Homo sapiens: one gene and its partners. The protein of the gene in region 3 interacts with the protein of the main gene of each other region in a biochemical or structural test. Each region holds a gene or a part of one and is shown on either strand. Other genes may lie near its edges.

Region 1 (7,809 bases), on a different chromosome or scaffold from region 3:
TTGTTTTTTGTTTAAGAGTAGTAGACAGTAGTAGTAGTACTCAGTAGTAGTTTAAGAGCTGGGTAATTTGATTACCTGAGCTGGTAAAATTGATTTTGCAATTCTCATCAAGTACAGGCACTTTCAATACTTCTTGATTGTTTATATATGCATTTATGAGTGGATTTTTGGTGTTCCTCCTTGTGGATATAAATTTGTGTTTTCCAGACTACACATGTATGATTTTTGTGGTTCATTTGGAAAAAGGAAAGATCCCAGGGCATGGTGCAGTAGATACTTGCAGTTTTGCAGGCCTGCTTTCTGGGGTCAGGAGGTCATCTGTCTCTTTTGCATTTAGTTTTTAAATATTGATATTGGTGATGCAGCCAGGGTGTGTAGAATAGTTGAACCTTCTTGCAAACCACATGCAAGAGCCAAAAAAAAAAAAAAAAAAAAAAAAAGGCATCGAGTGTATTGGAAATGACAGCTTTGTTAAGTTCCAAGAAATCTTTCATGAAACTGCCCAGGATTTGCAACCTGTCGCTGCAATTTCTTTAGGAAGGAAAAGGTTAAAAGAAAAACAATATTAGATACTTGAGATGTCAAGCTCCTCTCTGGAGATCCGTAGTGAAAGGCTCAAATGTGGTAGCGTTGCTTATTTCAAATATACAACTGGGTTTTGAAAAATCCAGTGAGCTGAAGCACTGGCATTCTATTTAGAAATCAATAAACTTTCTGTTAGTTAGAAAGGAAACTTTTTTTTTTCCCTTATAAGGCAGCAAGGAGATCTAGGGAGGAGATCTTTAAGAATACTGAAATAACAGAGTTTCCTGTTGCTGAGAGAATCATTCACTTCTTTCTGCCTCCTCAGCCAGGTTTTGGGGTGAATGAAAGTGGCCTGTCACACCAGTGCTTTTAACCCTCTCAGTGTGGGAGGGAGAGATGAAGAGTTTAGGATTGGTAAGTACCAAAGTTTAAGAAGTGTTTGGCCCATTTTGATACTATCAGAAGCTTTTCAGAGATATTTCCACTCTTAATACCACGACACAGACGTGCTAGAAAAAATGGAAAGTGAATACAATGCAGGCACTTTCTCAGTTCCTCCTTCTACCTGGGATTTAAAAGATTGAGATTTTCAAACCAAAGGTGGTGGACAAGTGTTGTGTTAAGAGAAGCCAGGCATCCCATGCACCGAAATCCACCAGTCCCTCTTTCCAAACAACTCCCTAGAGTTCTTCCAGGGAAGGCCTGCAATGACCTTGGCATTGGCTGGACAAGAAGAAGTGTTTTGGGGGGTGTCAGCCATTCTCCACATGGCTGCAAGGCCTGAGAAGACAGTCAAAGCCATAGAAACTGAGCACCCCCATAAACCTTCTTTTTCAGGAAGTCTCTGTTGCTCACTCTTCATTCCTTTTTGGTTTTCCTCGCCTCACCATACTCCTATCTCATTTTCCTTTTTCTGGGAAACAAATCAAAACCAAAAACTATCAAGCATCCTCTATGGTCATCAAAGTGCAACCAGCCATAAGCACCCTCAAACGTGGGGCAATTGAAAGAGATTTGAACCCCTAAGTGATGGGCCTGGGAGGCCCCAGACGTCTTCACTTCTCTGGGGTCTTACCTGGATCTGACGCTGCTTCTTCGCCCTTGGTGTTGCTGAAGCTTTTGTGGGCTCTTCTGTGTAATACTTGTCAATTTTTCGTTTTTCTTTTTTAAGCTTGTGAAAAACTTTTGGATGCAACCTAGTTTTGGTGGCAGAAGGAAATGGTTTCTGTTGGGAAAGGGAAACTAATAAAGGGAGGAGGGGTAGCGATGTCGGGAGACACTTGCCCAGGGCTCAGCCCTGGGCCTCTTTTTGCCAGGGGACAACGGCTGGTTCTGGGCTCTCAGGCTGAAAGGAGTGCTCTCTGGGTGCCAGGATTTCACTGGGGGTGGTGTGGTGAGGAGGGAGGGAAGAAGGGAGGGAGGGAGAGAAGGAGAGATGGGCGCTCGATTTTTAAAGAGACCCCGAAATAATGGCTTCTATGAGAGTCCAGGCATTCAAAGAGGTGTGTTCAAGGATATTAGTGCATTCCTGCCAAGGGGAATGTCTTTTATGGTAAATTAACTCCAGTTAAATTGAATATTTGTTCAAAGGGAAACTGCAGTAGTTAAAGCTGGTATTATCAGTAGAGCTTCCCCACCCCCTCCCCTCAGAATCTGGTGAGGGTGAGAAAGGGGATGCAGTGTAATGTGCAATACAAAGTGATGCTTTCGTGCTGGTGGTTTCTCTGTGTGTGTGTGTCTGTGTGTGTTTAATCTAAGATGAGGTTGCCTAAAATTTCTGAGAGAAATGAGTATTTACTTGGATTAACCCTGTCACCTCATTTCTTTCATCCATAAAGACTGCCAACTTTATCCCAGCTTTTCAAAAAGAAGAAATGACCCGCACAAAGGAAATTAACGTTGTCAGAACGCTGACTCCAGGATTTGCCGGGGCAGGGGCGGGGACCGCAGGGAGGCCGCTCCCAGGGCGTGTGGCCGAAAGGGTTAACTCGCAGGGGTCCGCGCGATCTCCCCGACTTTACCTGTCTTCCTAGTCCCAGCAGCCCCCGTCCCCGGCCTCCCGAACTCCCCACCCCCCAGCGCCTTTCTTCTTTGGGCTCTGGGTTTACGGGGGCTGCAGCTGGTAAACTTGGCAAGCTCGCCTCATTAAGAGCGCTCTTTGAAAACGGACTGTGTTTGAGCATTTCCCTAATGAGGACAGGACGGGGTTAAAAAGTGACCATTTCATGGTTGACTTGAACCTGCCTACTTTTCTTGATGTGTCGTTGTGAAATGCTTGATGTGGATAACTCCCACTTGGTGAAGGAAAAAGTCACTGGTTCCTCCAGGTCCGCTGGGGGAGGGAAGAGGGGACGGTGGACAGAAACCAGAGGGAGTGAGAGGGGCTAAAGTTGAGGGGACAGATCACGAGCTGGGAAGCGGTGGAAAGAGGACCGGGGAATCGGGGGCGAGCCTCGAAACGCCCCAGCAGTACCCGTGGAAGCGGGGCGGCCCCGCCCTGGGGATGGGCCCGCGAGGACCCGGTAGCCCCAGCGCCCCCCGGATCCCCCAGCTAGGTAGACTCGGAGCCCCAGGCGCTCACTTTTCCTCCCTCCATTGTCTGGGAGGCCTTTGCTTCCCCCTCGTCCCCATCCACCCCAAGCAGAAAACTGGATTTGGGGGGCGGTGTGTGTATGTGGGCGGGGGGTGCAGAAAGGGTGCAAGGCGAACCGCCTTCTTCAAAATCCCTGGAATCAAGTTCATTCACTCGGAGCCTGCACGGGCGACGGGGTGGGGGCGGGGCAGCGCCGCGGTGGGGAGCCGGCGCGGGCGCCGAGCGGCTCAGGGCCCGCAGCCTCTGGAGGGCTGCAGCGGCGCGCGCGCGCCCGCCGGCCCGCCCCGCAGCCCCGGGCGCGCCGCGGCCCCGCCCCGCCTGCACCCGGGCGGGTAGGGAGACGCTTTCCGCCGGCGCCCCGGGCCCCGGGGGGTGGGGATTGGGAGCCAGCCAGCGGGGCTGCAGGAGGAGGAGGAGGAGAGCGAAGCCGGGCGCGGGGAGGAGGTGGAGGGAGCAAGAGGCGGCGGCGGCGGCTCGGCCCGGTCCTCCCGCTCAGAGCGAGGCCACGTGCACGGGGCACCCCCGGGGAGGGCGGCAAACCGCGGCGAAGCGCCGCGCGCCGCGACTGCCTCGGGTGCGGGCCCCTGGTGGGCAGACCCGGGACGAACCCGCACCCCCTCCCTATCCGCGAACCCGGGCTCCGGGCGGGGCCGTCGGGGGCTGGGCGCCGCACCCCCCTGGTCCACGCCGGCGCGCCCCAACTACTTGAGCCCAAGTTCGCTCAGGTCCCCGCCTGCTCGGCCTCCCCCTTTTCCCGGCAGCCGCAGGCTCCGCGGACTGAGCCCGCCCCGGGTGCGAGTGTCCGCGCCCCAGCCCCGGCCTGGGGGCGGCCTGGGTGTGAGGGAATTTTCCACTCGTTCCTTTCTCGGGCTCAGACGGTTTCGGTGCTTCTCCCACTCGGATGTTCCCGCGGCTTAAAAGAGTCCGCAGCGAGCACCGAAATACCTCTTCCAGGGCGGGTTTTCGGGGGTGTGTATGTGTGTGCTGGTGTGGGGAGGGCAGCGGAAAGAAGAGCTATTTTGGAAAAAAAAAAAAAGTCATGGTTCTGTAGCACCGGTAGGATACCTTTAACAAATGAGGGAGAGGTGGGGGGAGAGAAGGAGAAGGAGGAGGAGGAGGAAGGTGGGGGGGCGGGGGGTGTGGAGAGGCTGGTGCAAAAGGAATGCGCGTTTGCAGGAGGAGGAGTAAAGCGATGATTGTGTAATTAAATAATAAAACAATCCTTAAGTCTGATTTGGAGAGAGCTCGAGCGGGGTCCAGAGGGTGGAACCGGTGAATTTTTCAACTTCCAAGTTTTGCAACGAAAGAAAGCAAGAGAGGGAGGGAAAAAAAAGAGCCTAGAGCAGAAAAGAGAGGAGTTTGGAGCCGAGCGGGAGAGCGGGATTTATCGTTTGGAATTTTTCAGGAGATCGTTTTGATACCCCTGGGCTCTGGGCAGCGGCGGCAACAGCAGCCTCCACGCTCGGCCGGGTCAGACGCGGGGCGAGGCGGGCGGGCGGGCGGCCGGGCGCCGAAGACCCGGCGCGGGCGGCGGCGGCTGCTGCTGCCGGGGACCACGCGCCGCGAGCCTCTTCCGCCCCAGAGATCAGCGCTCGCGCCCCCTCCCTCACCCCGGCCTCTCCCTTCTCCCCCATCCCACCCCGCCCCCACCCCGGCCCTCTCCCGCGCGCGCCCCGCCACCCGCGCGCACTCGCTCACGCTGCCCCTCGCGCACACACATGGTCGGCTCGCGGCAAAGTTTCGCCTGCGATCACCACTCCGGGATCCTGCCGCAGTGCTTGGGGCTGTAACCTTGAACTTTCCCAGCGCGGTGACACATTCTCCCCGCTCTCCCTCCCGCCCGCCCGCTCGCCCTCCTGCGCCCTCCCGCGCCCCCCTCCCCGCCTTTTTTGAAAAAGCATTTTACCACCAACCACCACCCCAATCCAACCCACACCGAACCTTCGCGCACCCCCTACACCCCAACAACAACAACAACTGCAAAATAGAAAACAAATCCCCAAACCCAGGCGAAAAGCAGCCAACACCGGCGGCGGCGGCGGCCTCGGCAAGCACGGCCAGCGCGCTCGGACTGCAAGAGGGTTAAAAGTGTAGATTGGATTTCACCCCTGGAAATCTAGCACGCCGAGTGAACTTGAATCTTTGGCTATTTAAGGAGGACTGGGTTTGTTGTGAAGTTGCGGTGATCCAGCGCAGAGCCCCGTCCTGATTGATCGCATCGCGGGGCTCAGATGACTGTAAAATGAATAGATGAAATTCTTGCTTCTCGAAGATTTTCTTGGGCATCTCCCGGAAAGTGCGTTTTAAGGCGAAGTCATGATGTATTCTCCCATCTGTCTCACTCAGGTACATGTCTCGGTCGCTTTCTCGAGCTTTCTCTCTGGCCCGAAATGCCTTTGTTTTGTTTTGTTGCGGACAATTAGCGGCTTGAGTTAACCTCCGCACATCCCCGTCCCTTGGAGAAGTGGCCCGGAGTTGCAGCGGGCGTCGCGGGGCGGCGTGGGAGCCGGGAGCGGCCCCTCGCCACGGCCACTGCGAGCGCCCAGCCCCGCGCCCTGGGCACGGAGCGCGGGCGCTGGGCCGGGCAAGGCCGCCGGGGGGTGGGCAGGGCCGGGACCTGTAAGTGCGAGGCCCCGTGCGGCCCCTCAAGTGCCCGTTGTGGTGCGGCATCCCCGCCCGGGGTGCCCGTAGCCCCTCTCAGCAGCTCGCGCGTTGAGGTGGACTCGGGCTTTGGAGGACTTTACGGGGGACTAAGCTTTTAAAAACAGCCAGTGAACTTGGGCGAGGGGACTGTAGCACGAGTCTGTGTGGGCGCCGCTGGACTGCGCTGCAGGCGGTGGGCGGGCGACGAATCGAGTCGGAGGTTGTGGTCCGGGGACCCATTCCTTTGCTTTATTTGGGGATCTGAAACCCTGGTCCATAGTGACCTGCTGCACTTTGGGGTTTCTAGTGACCGCACCACAAAGGCAGTATTTACGTTGACACGAGTTAGTTGGTCTTGGTGATTGTTAAGGAGTTTTTAGAACGTGTTCCTTTTGTGGAAACCTGTTCATTTGACGATATTTGGGCGTAGCTCGTAAGGCATTTTAAGTAATGCTGGTAGAAGTAAGGTCATTTTTTTCGACTTTGAGAATTGTCCTAAGACCTTAGGAATAATGTTATGAAATAAAACACTGGTTTTATACTTTTTAGAAACACGATTTGTATCACTTTAAGCCAGACGGTCAAATAGAAAAGCGGCGAGACCCAACAGACTTACCTGGGGGCAGTTTTCATCGCTGCCCAGGGAACTAACAACTGACAAAGTAACTAAAATATCTTAGCCCAGAACTGTTATTTGAGGCAGTATTTTAAACCTCTAAAGGTATGGGGCAGCTTATTTCAGCTTTTCGGAAGATGTGTCACCATTGGTAATTGATAACTATTTTCTTTGACATTGCCATGAAAACTAGTCATATAAAGAAGTGTCAGCCAGTCTTGGGCGTGTTAAAATTTTAAAAACATCTAATATCACGATGATGCATTTTTATAATGGACAAATAATTAAGATTTCAATTGTATGACAATTAGAAGCCATTGTGATTCAAAAGGACTGAGGCATTCATAAATTGTGAATGAAGATGAAAACAATGATAAGGCTTATTCAGTGATTGGATACAGTCCTGTAGCTTTTTGGCTGACACATTTTTTATTGTTTATATTTTGTTTGGCATCTGAGTATGATTAACTTAGATATGGCTATTTTCAGCAAGTAAACACGCACTTTAATTTAACAAAACTGGAAAAATGAGTTGCTGAGCTATTTGTATTTTAAAAGCCATGAATGATAATAGCCAATAAATATGATGAAACTGTTTCAGGTATAACGAATTGCCTTTACTTGTAAAAGTTACCATTAATATTACCCATCGGCTGGATATATTTTTCTCTTTCTGATAAGCTGTGTTAACTTGATATTATTTTTACACCGTGATCAAATAAAACAAATCAAAGCAAGATTTTCACTTACAGAGTATAGCATCACTTATTCTCACCTGTAAAAGATTGAATAATTGTGCATTTCTCTATATTTCTAACATCAGCTTTTCAGAAACATTGCTAGCAATTACATTGCATTTTTAGTATCCTCCAAATATGTATTGAAAAGTCACTAGTTTTATCTTAATTTGTGTAAGTTAAAGATAATATTGCAGCATTGAGACAGGGAATGTTGGGATCATATACAGCATAATCATTCAGCTATCACATTAGTATTCAGAGATACACACTTAACAACAATAACTTGTGATGACTAATATTCTCTACTATTTTAATAATATAAATCTAGGCTTATGTATTAAAACAAGGCCTACACCAGGGAAGGAATTTCAGCTTAAGAATTTTCACTTCACTAAGCTCCATGTGACTTTGCAGGTAATATAGGTGTTATAAAAGTGAGGCCACATTAATAGTGTCACTTTTGTATCAGATCAGTAGTTTTGTATCACAAGAGCCTAGTAGCTGTAGAAAAACATGTCTCAGGACATGTAAATTGCAAAATAGAGTATCATTCTTAATTGGTTATAAACTTTTAAAAGTATCTCAATTGTTGCAATAAGGTATCTAGGTTTTAGAAAAAAAATCTTAATTTAAAAGGACCTACCATTAAATGTTATGTTTAGCAAAATAGTATGCTACAAAATCAGCATATC
Region 2 (6,753 bases), on a different chromosome or scaffold from region 3:
CATGTCTTCTCAGAGGTCTGGCCACTGGCCATGTGCTGTCCCCACCTTTGTGGTGACCACCTCCCTCAGAAAAGACCCAAATATCAGCTGTGTGGTGTCCCTCCTTGAGTGCCTAGGTTCTGGTAAGCCCACCTTTCCCTTCGGTTTCCCCAGCTCCAGGGGTAGTGGCTGTATCCTGCAGTTACTAATACCTAGGCAACTTTACAGCCCCTGTTGGAAAACCCATTGAATCTTATTCCTGATTCCCGATTGGGCCCCAACTGATACAATCTATACAGCACTCAGAACAATATCAGGCACACAGTAAACACTATGTGAGTGTCAAATCCTGTATTTGTCCAAGTAGGTGAAAAAAGTAACACTGCCCATCAGAACACAGCCAAGGATGCTATGTGCCTGACAAACCCCATGGTGCATAAAGACCATCTTCTGTGGGAGCCTCCAGTCCACACCCGTGACTGTCACTCAATCACCCAGGCATGCTGTAAAGCAAATGATGACACAGCTTCCATAGCATTAGCAATTTTTTATTTTTCCTTTTTTGTTGCATAGGAAATGCAGTACTTGCTTCCAGTAATTGTATTGTAATGTGAGAAGGTGGTAGCACTAATGGTTGAATACAAGAGTTAAACTAATCCACACCAGCTCAAAAAACCTGTGGAGATTTAGTTGAATAAGAATGGACGCCCACAGTGATTCTCAACCAATTACAAATTTTCACAGAACACAGTAAAACTAAAAGGGTAACTATGAGAGTCAATACAAGTATACTAGAGGCACAGGGGGCCCGGCTCATAAAAACAGATTTCAGACCAAGTTATTAACACGGGGGGTGTTTCGTTTCATAACAGATCTCTTACCATCACTGGAAGTGTTCCATCCCCTCCCCCTACAATTTGAAATGGAAAACAGAGGTATTCCGAGTGGACAGATTTCCATGTGTGGTGGGAAAAGTCCCCAGTGAATTTTGCTCTGGTGAGAGGGCAGGGCTAAGGGTGGGGCGGGGGATCAGGGATTTGCCTTTGAGAGTCTTCCTAAAGGACCTCCTAGAACCTGATAAAGCTCCTAGTCTAGGTCTAGTTAGTATCTCAGTGGCGAGGCTACCAAATGCCTTCGCAGTGCAGAGACGATGGTCTGAGACCAGGGAGAAGGCACCGAGCCGTTAGTTCTCTCAAGCCTCTGTCCCAGCGGAGCTAGCGGCCTTATGACCTTCGGTTGCAATGTCAAAAGAAAAAAAAACAAACAAAAAAAAAAGCCAAAAAAAAAAAAAAAAAACCCAAAAAGGCTAACTTACAGACTATTATCAAAAAATAAAAATTTAAAAAATAAGAACAACACAAATAAGTCAAAGGAAAAATAAAAGCTTTTTTCATTTTGAGAAGTTGAGTATAAAAACAGCAGGAAAAATGGCCCAATACATTGGACACTATTTGTCCTTGAAACCACTGCAGAGATACAAAAGTTCACATTGTATGACCTGGTGGGTGTCTTCCACCATGAAGGTGCTCTGGTTAGATTAGAGGTAGCACTTCCACTGTATGCTCTTGTGGTTCAGACACATTTTGGGAAAGTTTATTTTTCTGAATCAAATAGGCGAATGCATCTACATGTAAAACTCAGGATACCAGGCACACAGATGAGGTCCCACCCCCACACACTGTCTCCCTGTTCTCACGACCAGCTGTGGGTGGTCCCCCTTATCTTTCTAAGCATTTCCGCTATCTGCTCCCCACATACCATCCCCCTAATCTGGGAAAGGTAACTCTTTGGGGAATAAAAGGCAGATGGGTGCTGGTTTAGGGAAAAAAATGAGATGAAATTTATTTAATTTGGGAAGCAAGTAATTTCAAATTTAGACCAAAAAAAGTATATTAAAAAAATCCCGTGTTAATAGCAAACTTCTTTTTCTTATGAATCGGGCCCAAAGTTTGTACAGAGTTTTATTTTTGAAGAAAATATTGCAACTGTGCATGAAACTAAATAGCCATGTGATTTCTTACATTTTTTTTCTTATTTTTCCTTTTAATATGAGGAGGTCTGGTGTGAAGACAGATCAAGCATGGGTACCTGGCTTGAACATTGTCCATTAAGAAAATGTATCAGTCTCCGCATAGCATCAGTCAAGGGTCAAGGAAAATGCCCCTGACTTGCAAATGTTCTCAGAGTGTCTTCGCAGCACAGTTCTTGAAATTCAAATAGTCGTTTTGAGACAAAAATCTCGCCAGGTACTGATTTCTGAAATCAAACACCCATGCTTGTCCCCTAGGAAAAAGAAAACAAAAAACAAAAACAAAAACAAAACACGAGTAATACTGAATTTAAGTAAATGTATACCTCCAAAATACTGAAAACAGCCGAAATCAAGAAAAGACAGAATTTGCGTTCTCAGTGAAATACCTTTAAACCTAGCTGACAAGAACCAAGTCGGAAAAAAAGACTAACATAACTTTGAGTAATATTCATACAGTTCACTAAGCATTATGGAATCGCATGCATTAATATTGTACGGTTATTTTACATCACCTATACCAGAAGGTCCTGACTGACAGACAGCGAAGGCTACCGGTGTAGAAAAATCTTACTTCAGAAGAGCAATATAATACAGATTTCACAGGCACTACATTTTAATATATCAGGTATTATGCTGGTTTTCTTATAATTCTTTCTGTCCTAAAGCTGGCATTATAACAATGACCAAAAAGGCAAGGATTGAAGTAAACGGAAAGTAGATACCAAAGTTGATATAGTTTTTTTCTTCAGATAGATTAGTGCATAGTTCTCATGCAGATAAACACTGCTATGCATTTACACTGTTGGAAAGCAGAGTGAATTGAGCCCAAGTTGTCACATTTGTGTAAATCATTTTGTCAGCCTATAATAGCACCATGTAATGGATTTGCATTAAACATTAAATTGATTTCAAAATTGGTGACACAGTATTCACTACAGTTAAGTGCTATGGAATAGCTTCAATGTTACCTGCTATATATCAAAGCAATTTTCATCCCACTGCTTTTTTATTGGAAAAAATAAAAGGAAAACATACACGACGCTAATTAGACGAATGCACAGCCTTGGACGTGGAGAAGGCAGAGCGGGTTTACTGTCAAACAGTAAATACATGCATTGACTTCAAGACAGAATTGGCCTTGGAAGCCTTTTTGAATGAAAGCTGAGCCGGTGGGCAGTGCAGCTTTCTGAGACTGTCTTTGGACAGATCTCGAAGGGTGGGTTTTGAGGTGCCACTGAAGCTCTCCTTACATTACTATGGTGGTTGTGTTTTAGATTTGTTCTATGGAGGCCTGCTACCAGAAATAAAAAAGAAAAGAAAGAATGAAGACAAGAAAGAAAACAGAAGCAAACAAAAAGAGAGAGAGAGAGAGAGACTCCACCACCACTATGGACAAAGATATTTCTAGAGACATGATGCAAAGTACATTAAATGACATTCTTAGAATCCCTTTCCCCTAAAAAACAAAAAAAATTCATAGAAAAAAAAGGTTTTTCCTTATCCAGGTTTTGTCAGTCCTTTATGCCACTGTAACTACAGGATTCAAAGCTTATGGGGCTAAGGGCTTGGAAAAAATCAAAGACAAACTTTTGGAGATGGGTCTTGCATATTCCTGTGGGCTGACTGAACACCGTGGCTCGGGGAAGTCTGGGTTCCTTCACACTTTGACTGTCAGAAAATGAAGATCACAAGCTCTGGGAGGTGTAACCTTGTCGGCCTGCCTAGAGCCCACACCTGGCGGCGGCAGGGACGGGCCTGGGGAGCGGGCTGACCACACGTAACTGTCATGCCAGGGTGTGAAGACACAGAACATCAGTTCAAACCTCAGAGGAAAGAGAAGGCTCTCTAGCATGGAGAGCGTGGCATTACTGGGAGGCCCTCTGCGCACGAATGATCAGAAAAGGGGCGTTTTGCTGGCAGGGACAAGGGCCAGAAGAAAAAGTCTACAGAAAAATGCTAAGAGTTAGTGTTCGTGCCTCTGACTTCAGTTCCCAAAGAAAAAACAAACAAACAAACAAACAAAAAACACAGAAATTTGAGGGACTCATCTTTGCCCAATCTTGTTAATGCCATTTGATGGGAAAGAAAAAATTCAAATGTGTCTCAGAGTCAAGGGCTGGGCCTTCAAATGCTGATAGCTCTCAGTCTGTCTGTCTACACACCCCAGGTAGCAAAGTCTTCCTCAAGCATCTTCACTATGCTTTTAAGCTAAAAAGCAAAAACACTGGCAACTGTTGGTGTTTCTTTTTTCCTGCTTGATCACAACTGAATAGTTTCCTGCTGCTTTCTGGACAATGAAACATGAACAAAAATGTAACTTCGTGTATTTAATACTTAACCCCTGTTCGTTATCACCCTAGACTGCCTCCCTAATGTTTTAAAGCCTTTAAAACATTTTTTCCTGCAAATCTGTTCAGAGTTCCCTAATTTTAGCTTCATCAAACTTAATACAACAAAATACCTTCAAAAATACAGCATACCTGTAACGTCCATTTACAATGGTTTTTCAGTAGACCTATACTTCTCAAGCATAGGAATATGCTATACCATTGAGAGAAAAAAATAATTGTATTTAAATACTTACAAAAAAAAAAAAAAAAAGGAAACAGGAAAGTTTTAAACTTAAATCCAGTTCCCAAAGGGGGGGTAAAAAGAAAGAAAAGCAATTCTATGAACGCTGCCTTTATAATGAACGATCAGAAATTTTACTAGGCTAATTTGACAGAAATTTTTCCTCATTTAAACAACATTACAAAAGTCCTGCATTATAAAATAGGGTAGAATAAATCAGTGTAATCAATAAAACTATACAACAATACAAATTACATATCTTCTGAGCGGGCAGTTTATTCTCTCTCTTTGCAGTCATGACTACAACATGCTCACTAAAAACAACTAAAACTGCCCAAACTATTGCTTAGTTTGTTTTGTTTAAAAAAGGGTGCAATTTTATTGTATATACAACCAATTTACTGGTAATACCTTGGCTTATTGCAAGGTTCTGACAAAATGTTTGTCTAGGCTTTTTTCCCTTCACTGTGAAGCACTGAAAGCTGCTATTTTTTCTTTTTTTTTTTCTTTTTTTCCTTTTTTTCATTTTTTAGTGCACATATGTCATAATAAAGTAATGCCCAGCTAAGTGCTATAGGGGAAGGCAAAGTATGCTGGCTGGCTATAGGAAGTGACACCATACACTGACAATCACACCATACAACAGCGCCAAACGACTATTCAACCACTTATCAGACACATATGAAAATCCAAAATGTTTTATTTTATTTTTTTTTCCTTAAATAGAGATAACCAGTAAACAATTTTCAGAACTTGGAAGTTTAAAAACGTGCATATAAAAATGGGCATTATATACTTTTTATTGAATGTGGATTGACTGCAGTCTGCTAAGAAAAATGGGGTGTGGGAGCTGAAGAAAAAGGAAGTTGTCTTTTTTTTTTTTAAGGCTTGCTTGTGAAAGGAACAGTTGTAAAAACAAAATTGCTTGAAGCAGGGTCAGCTTAGTGCTTCACAGTTTGACTGCTTCTCTAAGAGGAGCCCTTCCTGCGCACGTGCATTCAAAAATCACAAAAAAGTACAAAGACAAACACCTAAAACACACTGCGTCAAGTGCAGCACCGACTTTGGTCAAATAAAAAAAAATAAAAGAAAAATTAATAATTGCTAAGCTTTTCTACATGATATAAGCAGGTATTGCATATTTTCATATATCTGGGGGAAAATAAAGGAAGACTCCAAATAAATTGTAAAATGCAGCAACATCCAAAATACTGATATTCTAAGCATCTACAGATCTCAGAATAGCACTGCCACCGACCGTACAGGACAATAAAGACTACTCCTATCTGCGGAACAACTAGCTTTCTATTTAGTTCTAGATGTTGAAACTGACGATGGCTGACATAAAAGTCACATTTACAAAAAGTGTCTCCAAATGCTTGACTAGGGAAAAACCCCTTTCAATAGAGGAGCATGTGCAACAATTCCACAAATAATCGCTATCCAGGGCAAGGCACATTGATATGGAATTTTTGTTTTCGTGCAAATTAAGGAAAAAAAACAAAACAAAACAACATTGTTTCGGGGAGAAAGATGAGGAGCAAAGTGTCTTCCCAAGAATTTCAGTTACTTGATTGTATAGGACAGTAGTAGAACCCTTCTGAAGGGCTGAAAAACATAGTTTAAAGGCAAGTGCCTAGAGTAGGGATTACAATATTGTGTCTTAATGCACTCTACTTTATCCTACATTAACTATATAAAAATTAGTTACTAACACTAGAACATGCAGAGACTTTCTCTGATCAGCAGGGCTTGCCAACCAGAACGTATATATATGTATAGTATAGGAAACCTTCTTGAAGTCGCATGGGAAGCAAAGGGGTGCTTCGCTGTCTGGTAGAAAAATCACTTGCACTTTTTTTTGTTTTTGTTTCTGTGGTTTTTTGTGTTTTTTTTTTGTTTTTGTTTTTTGTTTTTTTTTTCATAAGATACAGGACGTTTGGGGGTGCAAACTTTTTTTTTTTTCCCTAACAAGTACCCTTGATCTGAATGGGCACCAGCATTTGTGTCAGTATTGGTTTCATCATTATTATTATTATTATTATTACTATTATTATTTCCCATAGCCCAGTTCAGGGATGCAAAGGTCTTTAAAACTTCTGGACAATCTCTGGTACAATGAGGTGTCTGATAACTGATAAATCCTATGATGCCAGATAGGTGTAAAATTT
Region 3 (7,025 bases):
TGACTGTGAAAGCACTTCCCCCATTCCAGCGGCGAAGGCTCCAACCCTTTCTCCCTCCTTTGCTAGAGAGCACAGAACTGCAAGTGATTGTGAGTGGCCTTGTTTTGGGGATTACTTTGAATCTATTCTAACTTATTACAAAGGCAAATCATTAGCAATATCTTCATTCTGCACAACTAATCTGGAGAAGACACATCTGGAGATGACTGTGGTGACTTTCAAGATGCCTGAAAACTTTGATCGTAACAACCTTTGCATTCCATTCTAATACTTCTTAAGAAGAAAGATGAAGTGGGTCTGGTGTTTCTATTACCTGTGTGTGTTCTTCTGTGTGCTTTCAAGTGGGAGCTTTTAGTGTACACTTTGTTGCATCCATCATAATCACATCTGTGTATCCTCCGCTTCCTTTGAGTATCCGGGGATTCCACAGGTAAAGGTCTCTTCCCAGGCTGCACGATGACCGAAGGGTGATTCCTGTGAAAGCCAAGGTTACAGGCCAAATGTTGAGAGCACGCTCTTCCTTTTTCATCAGTCTACTAAAAGCATTAACAACACTGGGCAAAAACAAACAAACAAAAAATCCCAACAAAATAAACAAAAAGAAATTAGCTGATCAACCCAAGAAGCACTGCTATATTCATTCAACAAACATTGAGTGAGCACCTACCATGAGCCAGGCACTGTGCTTGGCACCGGGACACAAAGATGAATAAAAACAGGGTTCCTGCCCTCGAGGAGCTCACACTCTAGGGGGAGACAGACATGGAGATAAGTAATGACAGTAAGAAGGGTTAAGTGCTATGCTAGAGGCAGGCACCAAGTGCTGGGGAGGCTCTTTTCCTCAGTCAACTTCTGCCTACTTATAGAATCTTGTGGTTCTAGGCAATGCTGAACACTATATTTTTTCACAGGCTGCTCTGATTTTCATTATTGTTGGCTAGGGAAAAATGGAAAAGATCAAACTCCTAAGTCTCAGGAAACCACATTGTAGGGTATATCTACGTTTTTATCCTTTATGTAATTGGCATTTAATTGGAGTCCCTTAGAGACTGCCAATTCATGTGCAATTTTCAAATGCCAGCTCTTCCAAAAAACAACAAAAAAGTTGGCATTGCTGTCTTCACAAACTCAAACCTCCACTGTCACTGTGATTCCTGTATGAGGGAGAATTTCAATGTAGTGTTGTGGTCACCCATGATGCTGGCTCACGTGGTGCCGGCTCCCCCATGGCATGCCTGACGTTCTCCCTACCTTCCTGATTTCTCTCTCATTCCTGAGTTTGCACCTTCCCTGGGTGGATTAGAAACCAAATCCTGTTAAAAATCTTACAATCTAAGCTTTTTTTCAGCAAGAAGGTGGTGGAGAGAAAAGGGAGATGGAGGAAGAGCTGGGAAAAGTCTGTTAAGTTCCTCAGGCTTCCCCTGCTGATTAATGTAAGTAATTATAATGTTCTAATCTGCTCATTCACTTTCCTAATGACTAATTACTTGATATATCACAAGTGTATGTCATTGGCCTCTAACTGTAATGAAAGACTTCTTTCTCTTTCATATTTGAATCTATAGCTCCTAAAATGTTCCATATAATACAGGAATATTTTGCCTAAGTGTTTGAGGAGAAAAAAGGTGTGTGAAAAGGAAAAAAAGAATTTGATGAGAGTAAACACTCTAACTCGTGAGCTTAAAAAAAGAATAAAAGAAATTTATCCATAAAAATCAAAAGGGAGTCTCTTGGTATAAAACTTGTCTTGGTAAATATTTGAATACACATCCCTTGTCAATCACTTTTTCAGGCATGCTAAGAAGTGACTAGAAAAAGAATAAAAGGTGTGTTTCTTAAGTGACCTTACTTCTCATGCTTTTTTTTTTTAAAAAAAACATTATTTATTTACTGCTCATGCTTTATTATGAGCAAAGGAAACTGTCAGTTTTGACTCTCACCTTCCTACTCTAATACCTGGAAGGGTGGTAGAGATGGATAAAATAGGCCAAGTTTAGATACATGGAAAAGTGAACATAAAGTAGTGAGGAGGGAGAAAAGAAAAATGACTTCAATTATATATATGTATATATATACACATATATATACACGTATATATATATGTATATATATGTACATATATATATACGTGTATATATATGTGTATATATATACATATATATATATGTGCAAACAGCAGAGAACACAGCAAAGTGAGAGGTTTACAGACAGAGTTTTTATAAGGCTGAATTATTCATTTAAAATCCTTCAATAGAAAGAAAAAAGTTCAGTTTATTTTTAACTTTCAGCTTTAATGCCATCTAATGAAAATATTTCATTTCCATTAAAAGAAATTCAGGAAATAAAGTGCTGGGGTAGAAATTTAATTATTAACTATAAAACTTTTATATGTCTTTGGGATACTGGGAGACTATCTTTTTCAGATAACTTTAGAAATCTCTCCCAATTATTGGATTTTATGGGTTGGGAATCTAATCGTTTCTGTGCAGTAATTCTGACTGCCCTTTCCAGTTGTTTATTTTACACATAAAGGTGCACCGAAAGGCTGTGGGCTCCAGTTACAAATCCAGCTCTGTCACTGACAGTCTCTGTGATCCTGGGCCAAGATCTCGCCCTCTCTGTGTCTTAGTTTCCTCTCTGTAAACTGGGGATGATAATAATGTTATCTCAGAAGGTTATATCTCGGAACAATGTCTGTTCCCAAGATAAAGCTATAAATGGTAGCCATGAATATTTTCAGGTTCAAAATAGTCTATTTGTAACTTTGTACCCTATGGTTGTTTAATTTCATGAGTTTTTTGAGGATGTCCCCAAACCAGGATATCTCTGCTTGAGCTGTGTCCCTCAAACATTCTGAGCACAGTTAACCTGCCGCATCTCTGAAGACGCTGATGTTGGTTCAGGCCAAGGCTAGATGAAGAGTCTTGGGATCTCACACTTTTTGGTCTCCACTCCCATTTTCAAAGAGATGGTTTGGGATTATTATAACCAAGAAGTTACAGAGCTAATACATATAAGATATCTTGTCCACTGTTTTGAGCTGAGACAGCCCCTCTTAAGTTTGCTATAATTCGCATACACAACTCAATAGGGAAATCTGATCCTTATGCTTTTTGTTCTAAATATAGTTTTGTATATTTAGAACAAAGAAATCTTTTTGTAAATCTGTAACAAATAGAATTTGATGTACCTTTGAGTGCCTTTATAAATAATCCTAAAGTTGCCACACCACAATCGAGCAAATGGATTTCAAAGCTGTACTTTTAAGTCTGCCTCTGGAAAGGAAGCGTTTCTTAAGGCAAATATTATTGGGGCTGCCTCACTGCAGTGGTACTGGGTGCCTAGTTTCAAGTGATTCTTTCCTGGCTAGCTGGTTTCCTACGTGGGCTGCTACTGGGCATACTCCAAGACGTTACTTAATCACATCTGTGAGAACATTACTTAAAGAGTACATGTCCCAGCTGTGGCTAATCTGTTGCGTTTTTTTGAGAAGCAGAATGTATTCTTAGGTCAGCATTAAAATAAGCATATTACTCATTAATCATTAAAAGCCACTGAGCTTGAGATCATCAAAAGAATATTACTTAAAATAAAAGTATTTTCTTTTGAGCAGCATTCAGAGCACAGAATATTGCCTTCAAATCTTCTTATGTAATGTTTTACGTTGCAACTCATAATAACCCAGACTTTGGAATAACACTTGTCCAGTCAACGGATCCCTCCCTTGGAGGCAGTTGGTTTTATTTAGTTTTATAGCATCTCTTTCATCACCCATGCAGGAACAACTATAAGTGCAGGCCACGTTGCTAGTTACCTTGCCAGAAACATCCCTCAACATAAAAAAAGAGTTAATTCCACCTCTAAGATGTGTCCATTTTGCCTAGTCATTTTTTCCTTTCACTTGAGTGCATGAGCAGATGCAATGGGTTGGATATGACAAGATGGCAGGAAAAGCCCTGATTCGGAAGCAGGAGATCAAGCCCAAGGCCCCTCAGTTGTTAGCAGGGTGAATATTGGCGAGTTATCTAATGTCTCAGGTAATCACTTTGCCTTTTGCTCCGACTCCCACAGGCTTGTTGTGGAGGAATAAAATAATTCCTTTGAAAACACCTGGGAAGGTTTTTTTTGAGGTAAGAGGGCACTATGCAATTGTGAGGAATAATGAAATATAACTCCATCAGAGACTCTCTCCCTACCTGCTGATGAAGTCGGCTAAGAGTTATTCTCTTCTTCATCTATTGGGGAGCATATGACAACCCAAACCAAAAATGACTATGATTGGGTGCAGTGGACAATTAATCCATGAGCTACTATGAAGGTACCTACCCAAGCTGAATGTGGATACAACTAGGATATATTTGAAGTTACCATAAAATAGTTATTCTAAAATCAGAGAATTCACATTCTGCTGTAGAGTTAATTGTGAGAGGGAGCGGGGTACAGGGGGTAGAGAAAATAAAGGAGAAAGGTGGGTAGAACATTTATTCAAGTTGGAGGAAAATGATGCAGGAGGACAATGGAAGGGACCCTGTGGAGGTAATCGTTGCCTTCGTACTAGGAAGCTGGCTGCTGAATCCAATGCTGAAGCACCATAACACAAGACAATCACAACTACAATCAATAATGAAAACAGAAATGGGGCAGCAAGATTAAGTGACTAGTCCAAGATCATACATATGGCAGAGAGCAGAGGTGGGATCCTTGTTGGACCCGAAAACCATCTTCTTAGCAACTACAAACCCAGCCTTCAGTGTAATCACTGGTGGAGGTCAAGGTTATCTACAGCAGGATCCCACAAATGAGGTTACTGAAGCTGTGTGTGGCAACTACCACATTATACCATGTTAGACCTACAAGAAACCACCATTCAGGTGCTTGGATGCTGACCAACACTGCACAGCCTTCCTACTGGATAGCAATTCTACAGGATACTATACACTCTGTAAGGACTATGTGTGTCCACATGAAAACTTTACATGATCCACAGAACACCAAGTTTAATCTATACAAGGATTCTCATAATGGAAAAACTAAGTATACATAGCCTGGAAGAATGGAAAAAAAACAAAAATAATTCATGTGGTAAGGTGCAAAATCATGGATGACTGATTCCATGAAAACTTGATGTAACTTTTGTCATAACGTTGTCAGTGTAACAGCATATTGTTTTTGGAGAGATTCTCCCATCTTGACCAGTGGTACTGGACCAGTGGCGGCCACAGATCACAAGCCGTTCCTGGTCATCCACACCACATCACACGTGTGAAATCTTGTGCTTCTGCTCCAGGTTCCAAGATGCACACTACTATGCAAATGCTGGGTAGACCTAAATATACTTACTCTTGCAACAATGCTTGCGGGGGGGACACTGAGTTCATTAAGGGGGGTGACATTTCTTCAGGATAATAATCTGTCCTCTGTGGTTCGATCCCAGGTTCTATTTTAATTTTTTTCTGTGATATAGGCTTCTCATATGATTCAATTACAGGTACTAAAAAATAAAAATAGAAAAGTCACTTCACGTACAGTTTACCAATTTCAGCTTTTAAAAGCTTACTGCATAGCTCCTACCTACAACACAGATATGACAGGTTTATTTGCCTTTGGCAGACTATAGCAGGAACAAATCTGTGGGAGATTCTCACCTCTCCTGACCATTATTTTGCCAGTAAGCAGCAAATATAGGGACCTAGATTATAAGACACCAGCCCTGAAATGATTCGTTCTTATAATTCTGGATTATTTCCTTTCAACCCCTTAGTCCTCTATGACCAGCTGATAAACAAGGTAGCTTTTGATCACCATTAGTTTTCACCACAATCAAAAAGGATTTATTAAATGCCTTTTGTACCTAGAACCATGTTGGTATTCAAGAAAGCAACATAAAGTCAAGATTCTTTCTATCCCCAAGTTGACCATTACATAGTGAAAGTAATCATGTCATGGTATCAAACAGACAGCCTGATTCTTGGGATCTCTTCCAGTATCAACACTTTGGGGGGGCGGGGGAAGGAAATGCCTTAGGCAGATGAGTATTTCCTTTGAAGAGTTCAACAGCTCTTGCCCCCATGCTTCCTCACCCACCCCATCTGGTGAAGCGCCAGTACGCTAAGCAAGTGCAGCAGCATGGAGCAGTGGCGGAATTTACCTTGCATGCTACTACTGGAATTTTCCATCTCCTCCGATAAGGAGACCATGAGAGGCTGCTGGAGGTGACTTGTGTACATAAAGGGGACGGGCTGCACCACCACCGGCTGGATGACGGGCAGGATCCCCGGGCTCCGTATTCCATGCCGCGAGAGGGCAGCTGCCATCACTGGTGGCATGGACAGCGGCACGCCGAAGGGCTGCACGCCTGGAGAAGGGGGTGAGTATTTTTTTATCGGTGGGCTGGAAGAAGGCATGCTCAACCCAGGCGAGGCTCTCCGGTGTGAGGACGGGAACTTCAGAGAGGAGGGCGAATTCCCAGCCGAAGGGGGTGAACTCCGCTTGTTCACCGTGAGGTCCACTGGCTCCATCTGTATTCCGTGCGACAGACCTTCTGGGGTCTGAAAGAACTTCTCAGGCAATGGTGTGGAGTAGATGACCCCATACTTGTTAGGCTTCATGGATTCCATGTAATTAGATGGGTATGACTATTAGAAAAGAAAAGGAAAACGTGTCAACAGCCAAATAAGTCCATTTACTTGAAACATGAATTAAGAAAAATATGCTAACAAGGCACTTAACAATTACATGGGCTTTACAAAATAGTTTAGATTTCGATATATATGTGACCTTAAAAAAATGCTCAAAGAGGTGGTCTCAACATTAAAAATGCTATGAGAGGCGGTCTCAAAAATATTAAAACTAAGATCAATGTGGTCACTACTGCAGATGAAAAATCTGAAATTTAATCCTAAGATGATTCCTGTGTCAAACATTAAGGCCGATACCTGGCAAAATTCTAAGACAGGTGATAGCACAGGCTTGGGGGCCATTATCATTAGGAGTCAGAGGTGGGCATCACAAGAACCAGTCAAGCC
Region 4 (7,025 bases), on a different chromosome or scaffold from region 3:
AATTTTTATTTTTGCAGAGATGGAGTCTCACTCACTGTGTTGCCTTGGCCGGTCTCAAACTCCTGGGCTCAAGTGATCCTCCCACCTCGGCCTCCTAAGGCACTGGGATATTTTCTATTTTCTTTCCTTTTTTTTTTTTTTTTTTTTTTTTTTTTTTTGAGACAGTGTCTCACACTGTTGCCCAGGCTGGAGGGCGGTGGCATGATCTCAGCTCACTGCAACCTCCGCCTCCTGGGTTCAGGCGATTCTCATGTCTCAGCCTCCCGAGTAGCTGGGATTCCAGGTGCGCCACCATGCCCAGCTAATTTTTGTACTTTTAGTAGAGATGGGGGTCTTGCTATGTTGCCCAGGCTGGTCTCGAATTCCTGGGCTCAAGCGATCCTCCCGCCTCGGCCCCTCTAAGATGCTGGGGTATTTTCATTACTATGGACGCGATTGCTGCGATGATCATTTTGATTGCAGACAATCTTCCAGGAAGCAGGGAACAGCCTGAGGCCCCGCTCCGTGTTCTGTGGCATGGAAACTAAGGCTCAGAGAGGGGCGGAGACCTGGCTGAGGTCCCACAGGGTCTCAGGGCCGGTGTGAGGATAAGAATCAGGGCCCTGACCCCCTGGAAGGCCACGGGTCCCTTTCTCAGAACAGCCTGTTCTCTGTAAGATTGGGGTCTCAGGAAGGTAGGGAGACGTTGACCCTGGACTCCCACTGTGTGTGCCAGCGGATGTGGCTGGACTCGGTCCCATTTCCAGGCCGGGATGGGCAGAGCAGCTGCTGCCAGATCACCCTCCCTGCTCTGTGCTCCACGTCCCCTTGGGCCACCTCCGGCCGTGGGGTGCTTCGGGGGGAGGGGCAGGACATCAGATTTCACCTATTACTGAGGCTCTGAAAATAGCCTCCCCACCCAGTGAGACCAGAGTCAGCTTGTACCAGCGAAGCTCCCCCACCCCAATGTCCCCCAAAGCGTGAGTCACCGTAACAGCTGCGGCGGGGACCGGACCTCAGGGCCCTTTTCCGCTGCCCCCGCTTCCCCAGCCAACCTGCTAAGGCAAAGGGGAGGTGGAGGGGGCCCGGCCCAGGCCCTGTCCAATCTCGTCCCTGCCCCTGACTGGATGAGACCCAGAGATGGGGAGTGGTTTGTCCAGGGTCACACAGCCGGTCAGCAGAGCTGGGACCAGAGCCCAGATGGTCTGGCCAGGGAAGCCGGGCAGTGGGGGTGGTGGGGGGCACAGTGGGACGCGGCAGAGAGGACCCATAGAGGCGCAGGACCTGCCTGTGGAGGAGATGCCAGGCGGGCAGGAGGCCCGGACAATGTTGTCCAGCTGGGGCCGTGGCTGCCACCCAAGCTCTGGCGCTTACTGGGGCTGTGATAAGAGGCTGCTGGAAGGGACAGGGGAGGCATCCATGATGGGGGCAGGGATCACTGTCCCCCCAACTCCTTCTCTCCCCAACCCCCCTCTCTCTCTGAATTCCCCCTCCCCACTTCCCCTCTCCTCTTAATTCCTTTTCTCATCTGGCCCCTCGTAGATCTGAGTTCCCTTCCTCCTCCCTAACTGTCCCTCCCTTCTCTATGTTCCTCCCCTTCTCTGTGCCCTTTCCGGGGACAGGTGCCAGGGAGGCGGGCAGGGGTGGGGGCCCACGTCAGTGGTGACCCCGGCTAGTTACAGAGGCAGGAAGACAAACAGCTTGTAACTGGGTCATGGACCTGCTGCCCCATCCTCCCTTGTCCTCCCCAGGGGATCAGACCACGTGAGAGGCAGGGCCTGGTTGGCCGGTTGTCACTCTGTTTCTCCCACATGACCTGCAATAACCAGGGCCTCTTCCCCAGGGACCTCCTACTGCCCTCAGAGGCCCAACCGGCAAAAGAGATAACCAAGACAAGCTAGATGCTGAAAATCCTCCCAAACTCCTACACATCCCTCAACGCCCTATCTCTAGTGTCCCCTCCTTCAAGCAGCCTTTCCTCCTCAACCCAGGGTTTCCCAGATCTAGCCAGGACCATCCAGTTCTATCACCTCTCCCTCTCCAATCCTGAGGCCCAGAGTTGAGGCACCCACTGTCGGAGAAGGTGGCTGGGTGACAGTAAGGTCTATTTTCACCATCTGAATGGCTGGGGAACAGATCACCTCAGATAAGCCTCAGTCTCTCATTCTGTACAATGGGCAGAAAGGAATATTGCAGCCTGCTGGAGACAGGGGAGCTTGCCTGGTGACCTTGTTCCTTGCAAGGTGATGGGGAGAAGGGGAACAAGGCTAGGTCTTTCCTGGAAACCCCAGCTTAGCCCACTGGGACTTCCTGGCCAAAGAGAGCAGCAGCAGCTGGGAGAGACATCTGGACCCAAGACCTTGCTGAACGACCACGCCATGCACTGGGTGATGCCCTCACTCACCTCCCTGTGCTCCTCCCACCCTGAAAGTCCAGGCCAGCAAACCAGGACAAGAAACTCCAATTTCCAAACCAAAAGTTTCCAGGTAAAAGTGACTCAACAATCCTTCATGAGAATCTAGCTCATTACCTACTTAGCACTTATCCCAAATTCCTACGCATCCTTCAAAGCCTTAGTTCTAATGCCTTCTTCTCCGGGTCGGATGACTTGTCCATGGTCCCACGGACAACCCCAGGCCCATCCGGCACCAGCGTCAGGCTCTAACCTTGGGCCGCTCCTTCCCCTGGCTCAGAAAATCACAGCCTGTGGACATGTGAACGGCTCCCAGAGAGGGAAGATTCATTCTGTTGCTCAGCAAACATTTAGTGAGTGCCTGCTGCATGCCGGTCCCAGGTAGGGTGCCGAGGACTTGGCAGGGACCTGGGCTCGGCCCTCACCTGGATCCAGATCTGGGGCAGGGACGGATGGTTAAAATCAGCAAAATATGTAATAAAACGTCAAGTTGGGCAAAGTGCTCTGAAGAAATTTAAGAGTTTGAGGGACCAGAGAATCTCTGGGGTGGGGGGTGTTTTTTAGCTTGGGGGGGGGGTCCAGGAAGGTCTCTTGCAGGAGGAGACACCTGAACAAAGTCTTGAGAGATGGCACTCCAGGCCAGGAGCTTTCTGATGGAGAAATGGGTCATGCAAAGGCCCTGGGGCAGGACCGCACCTGGCGTGTTAGAGGAACAGCGAGGAGGCCCATGTGGCTGGAGCAGAATGAGCAAGGGGGAAAGAGAGAGGAGGGGAGGGTTGAGGAGGGGACAAGGACAGGCTGGGCAGGGCCTTGTGGGCCACAGTGAGGAATTTGGGTAAACTGAGTCCACAGGGTTCAAACTCTCTGCCAAGGCAGTGAGTCAGCAAAATGAACCCTGGGTCCCCTACTTCCCTCTGTGCCTTGATGTTCTGGGAGGACAATGAGGGCTGAGCCAGAGGGGCCAGGAGGTGGAGGAGAGAGGCAGGGAGCGAGGCTGTGCCTCTTACAGGCTGAGCGTTTGCTGAGCTATCACGTCTACTACGAAATAGGGGCCGGGCGCGGTGGCTCACACCTGTAATCCCAGCACTTTGGGAGGCCGAGGCGGGCGGATCACCTGAGGTCAGGAGTTCAAGACCAGCCTGGCCAACATGGTGAAACCCCATCTCTACTAAAAACACCAAAATTAGCCAGGTGCGGTGACACACACCTGCAATCCCATCTACTTGGGAAGCTGAGGCGGGAAAATCGCTTGAACCCGGGAGGCGGAGGTTGCAGTGAGCCCAGATTGTGCTACTGCACTCTAGTCTGGGCGACAGAGCGAGACTCTGTTTCAAAAAAAAAAAAAGTCTACTATGAAAGTGGGGACTATCATTGCACCCACTACCTCGAGGAGGAGACTGAGGCATGAAATCTTCCACCAAAGTCACACAGTCAGGGAGGAACTGAGCTGGGACTGGTCCCTGGGCCTCCTGGCACCCCCCCACCCCACTCCTGGGCCCCTTGAGCAAACAGTCTCGGGCCAGAGCGTCCAGTGACACCTGGTCTGCACCGTGCACACTCTCCGAGTCCCACGTGGTTCCCTTCCCCTTGTTTGATCCCCGAGGTCGGTCGCACACCACATCCTCAAGGAGTCCTGGTCACCTCGTTTCCTGCCCGTCCCCGACCCGGCCTAGACTGTCGGTCCCACAAGGGCACAGCTTTGATCTGTTAGCATCTCCAGCATCCAGACCACTGAAGCAATGCTCCCATCTTCTGCCTCTGGGACCCCCCTTATCCATGCACCCCCATGTGTAAGGAAGGCTGGTACCCACACAGGGCTGGTCAAACTCAGGGAGACCCTGGACAGGGCTGGGCAGGGAGAAAAGACTAACAGAGGCCGGGCACGGTGGCTCATGCCTGTAATCCCAGCACTTTGGGAGGCCGAGGCAGGTGGATCACCTGAGGTCAGGAGTTTGAGACCAGCCTGGCCAACATGGTGAAACCCCGTCTCTACTAAAAATACAAAAGTTAGCCAGGCGTGGTGGCACGTGCCTGTAATTCCAGCTACTTGGGAGGCTGAGGTAGGAGAATCGCGTGAACCCAGGAGGCGGAGGTTGCAGTGAGCTGAGATCACGCCACTGCACTCCAGCCTGGGCGACAGTGCAAGACTCCGAGAGAGAGAGAGAGAGAGAGAGAGAGAGAGAGAGAGAGAGAGAGGGAGAGAGAGGGAGAGAGAGAGAAAGAGAAGGAAAGAAGGAAGGAGGGAGGGAGGGAGGGAAGGAAGGAAGGAAGGAAGGAAGGAAGGAAGGAAGGAAGGAAGGAAGGAAGGAAGGAGAGAGAAAGAAAAAAGAAAGAAAAGAAAAACTAACAGAAATGCCACAGTAGAGAGGGGTCTGAGCCTGGGCCTTTCCAGGTCACCACTGTCCTTGTCACCCAGCCCAAAGCTGGGCTTACGCTGCGCAAATACACACAGAGGGAAGGGAGGGAAACTGGAAAATGCCTCTGGGGTGTTCAATGCAATTACTAGTTTAGCAACAACCATAAGCACAGCAGCACTTATTTGGCACCTACTGTATACCAGGTGTCGGACTAAGGTACATCGATGTCTCTGAGGAAAGTGCCATTATGTTTTTTATTTTATGTTGGCGGAGAAATGGAGGCTCGGGAAGACCAAAGTCCCGCCTCTCAACCAAAAACATTCATTCATTCATTCATTCATTCATTCATTCGTGCAACAGGTATTTATTGGGCACCTACTGAGTACCAAGCCCTGCACTGTGGACCTCAGAAATGTCCTGCCTCCCCGGAGGCTGCAGTGAGCCAAGATCGCACCGCTGCACTCCAGCCTGGGCGACAGAGCGAGACTCTACCTCAAAAAAAAAAAAAAAAAAAAATTGTGCTGCCTCCCTGAATCTGCAGCAGCCCTGAGGAAGTGGGGGTTTCTGCTGACTTCATTTCAGGGCAAGAAACGGTCCGGGGGTGGGGGCAGGTCACCCACCAGAGTCAGGAAAGAGGAGAATTAGTTTAGCAACAATCACAAGCACAGCAACACTTATTTGGCACCACTCTATAGCAGTTATTTGGCACCTTCTCTATACCAGGTACTATATTGGGTTTGGCACCTCCTGAGCAAGATTTTCAGGCAGATGTGAGGGGCACTCTAGGTCTGTGTGTTGGTGACCCCCATCAAGGCAGATCCGAGGCAGGCAGAGCTGTGTCCTCGTCCGTATGGGTGTCAGGGAGTGTGCACGCGTGTGCGCCCAGCGTGTGCTCATGGATGTGAACTGGTCAGGACTTGGGTGCCCGCACGCTGTGTGCTCAGGGCAGATGGGCACCCAGGTGAGGTCGGCGTGGACACAGGCAGGAGAGTGGGGGGCGGGCCGTGTCCGGGGCAGGAGGCCCAGGCAGCATTTCCCATCCATTTGGTGTGAGACAGGGAGGGAGGCCAGCTCAGAGAGACAGAGAGAGAGAAAGAAGAGGAGGAACAGAGAGAGAGGAAGGGAGGGAGAAAGAAAGAGACAGACAGAGAGAAAGAAGAGGAACAGAGAGGGAGGTAGGGAGGGAGAAAGAGAGAGAGAAGAGAGAAGGAGAGAGGGAGAGAAGGGAGACGGGGAGAGAGAGAGAAAGGAAGAGGGAAAGACGGAAAGGGAGACAGAGAAGGAGAGAGGGAGAGAGGAGGAGAGAGCGAGATGGGGGGAGAAAGGGAGGGAGACAGAGAGAGAGAGAGAGAGAGAGGAGAACGCTGACTCTGCCAGAATCCCAGCTTTGGTGATTTACAGGGCGCTTGGCCCTGGCGCGCAGAGGCACCTCCGCCGCAGAGAGGGGAGGGGGAGAAACAGAGAGAGATGCACAGAGAGACCCAGAGGGAGATACAGCGGGAGAGTGGTGGAGCCTTGTAGAGAGTGAATCAGAGGCCACCAGGCCCCGGGTGGGGGGCACACGGGGAGAGAGCGCCCACCTGCCCAAGCCGCCAGATGGAAAATGGCCTGAACCCCAGCTCTGCCAGCCCCACTGTGCCACCTCGGGCAGGCCCTGGCCCTCTCTGACTCTTAGCCCCTCTCCCGGCACTGAGGGGCTGCAGGCCCCCTGCTCCTGGTAGGCACCCCCCAAGCTCCCTCTAAGAACCTACACTGGGCCTGGGCCCTGCTGCCTCCCCCACCCCCACCTATCCCCAGGGCCCAGGAGATGCTTAAGGAAGATCTAGAAAATCCAACAAAGGTCGGGGGTCTGGGGTGGGAGGACAGCCTCTCCCAGCCTCGGTTACCCTGCTGGAGAAATGGCAGCAAAGCACATTGTGCTCCGAGAGGGCATGGGACGAACGAATGAAGGAAACAACGAACGAATGAGACAGGGACCCGGTGGCGGGATGGAGGTGGCTCGGGGAATCCGCCACGCTGCGGCCAAGAGGGACTTGGCCCCAAACCCGGAATAACTAACGTGGCGGTGGCGCCAGCGGGAGGGAGGCAGGGAGGGAGGCCCAGAGCAGGCGCGGGGAGGCCGGCCTTCCCGCCGGCAGGATTTATGGGAGCCATGGGCTCCACACAGTTCCTCTTAAGAGTAAAAGTGAAAAAGCGCTTGAGTCACCGCTGAGCCCGGCCCGGGGCTCCCAGAATGCCCCAGGGCCGCCAGCACCCACTCCCCACTCGGCGGGCCG

Evidence for each region.
Region 1: the proteins of KLF3 (region 3) and NFIB form a complex in vitro, tested with the Homo sapiens proteins (one study listed by BioGRID).
Region 2: the proteins of KLF3 (region 3) and NFIA form a complex in vitro, tested with the Homo sapiens proteins (one study listed by BioGRID).
Region 4: the proteins of KLF3 (region 3) and NFIC form a complex in vitro, tested with the Homo sapiens proteins (one study listed by BioGRID).

What each region holds. Positions count from the first base shown.
Region 1 is NC_000009.12:14,311,137-14,318,945, reverse strand, and holds the start of NFIB (nuclear factor 1 B-type), read left to right. Parts: upstream 1-4,804; 5' UTR 4,805-5,434; coding exon 5,435-5,464; intron 5,465-7,809.
Region 2 is NC_000001.11:61,456,547-61,463,299, reverse strand, and holds the end of NFIA (nuclear factor 1 A-type), read right to left. Parts: 3' UTR 512-6,753; downstream 1-511.
Region 3 is NC_000004.12:38,688,195-38,695,219, reverse strand, and holds part of KLF3 (Krueppel-like factor 3), read right to left. Parts: intron 6,636-7,025; coding exon 6,149-6,635; intron 5,492-6,148; coding exon 5,341-5,491; intron 747-5,340; exon of another isoform or gene 668-746; intron 475-667; coding exon 314-474; exon of another isoform or gene 313-313; intron 1-312. UniProt on the Homo sapiens protein: Binds to the CACCC box of erythroid cell-expressed genes. May play a role in hematopoiesis.
Region 4 is NC_000019.10:3,369,562-3,376,586, reverse strand, and holds part of NFIC (nuclear factor 1 C-type), read right to left. Parts: intron 1-7,025.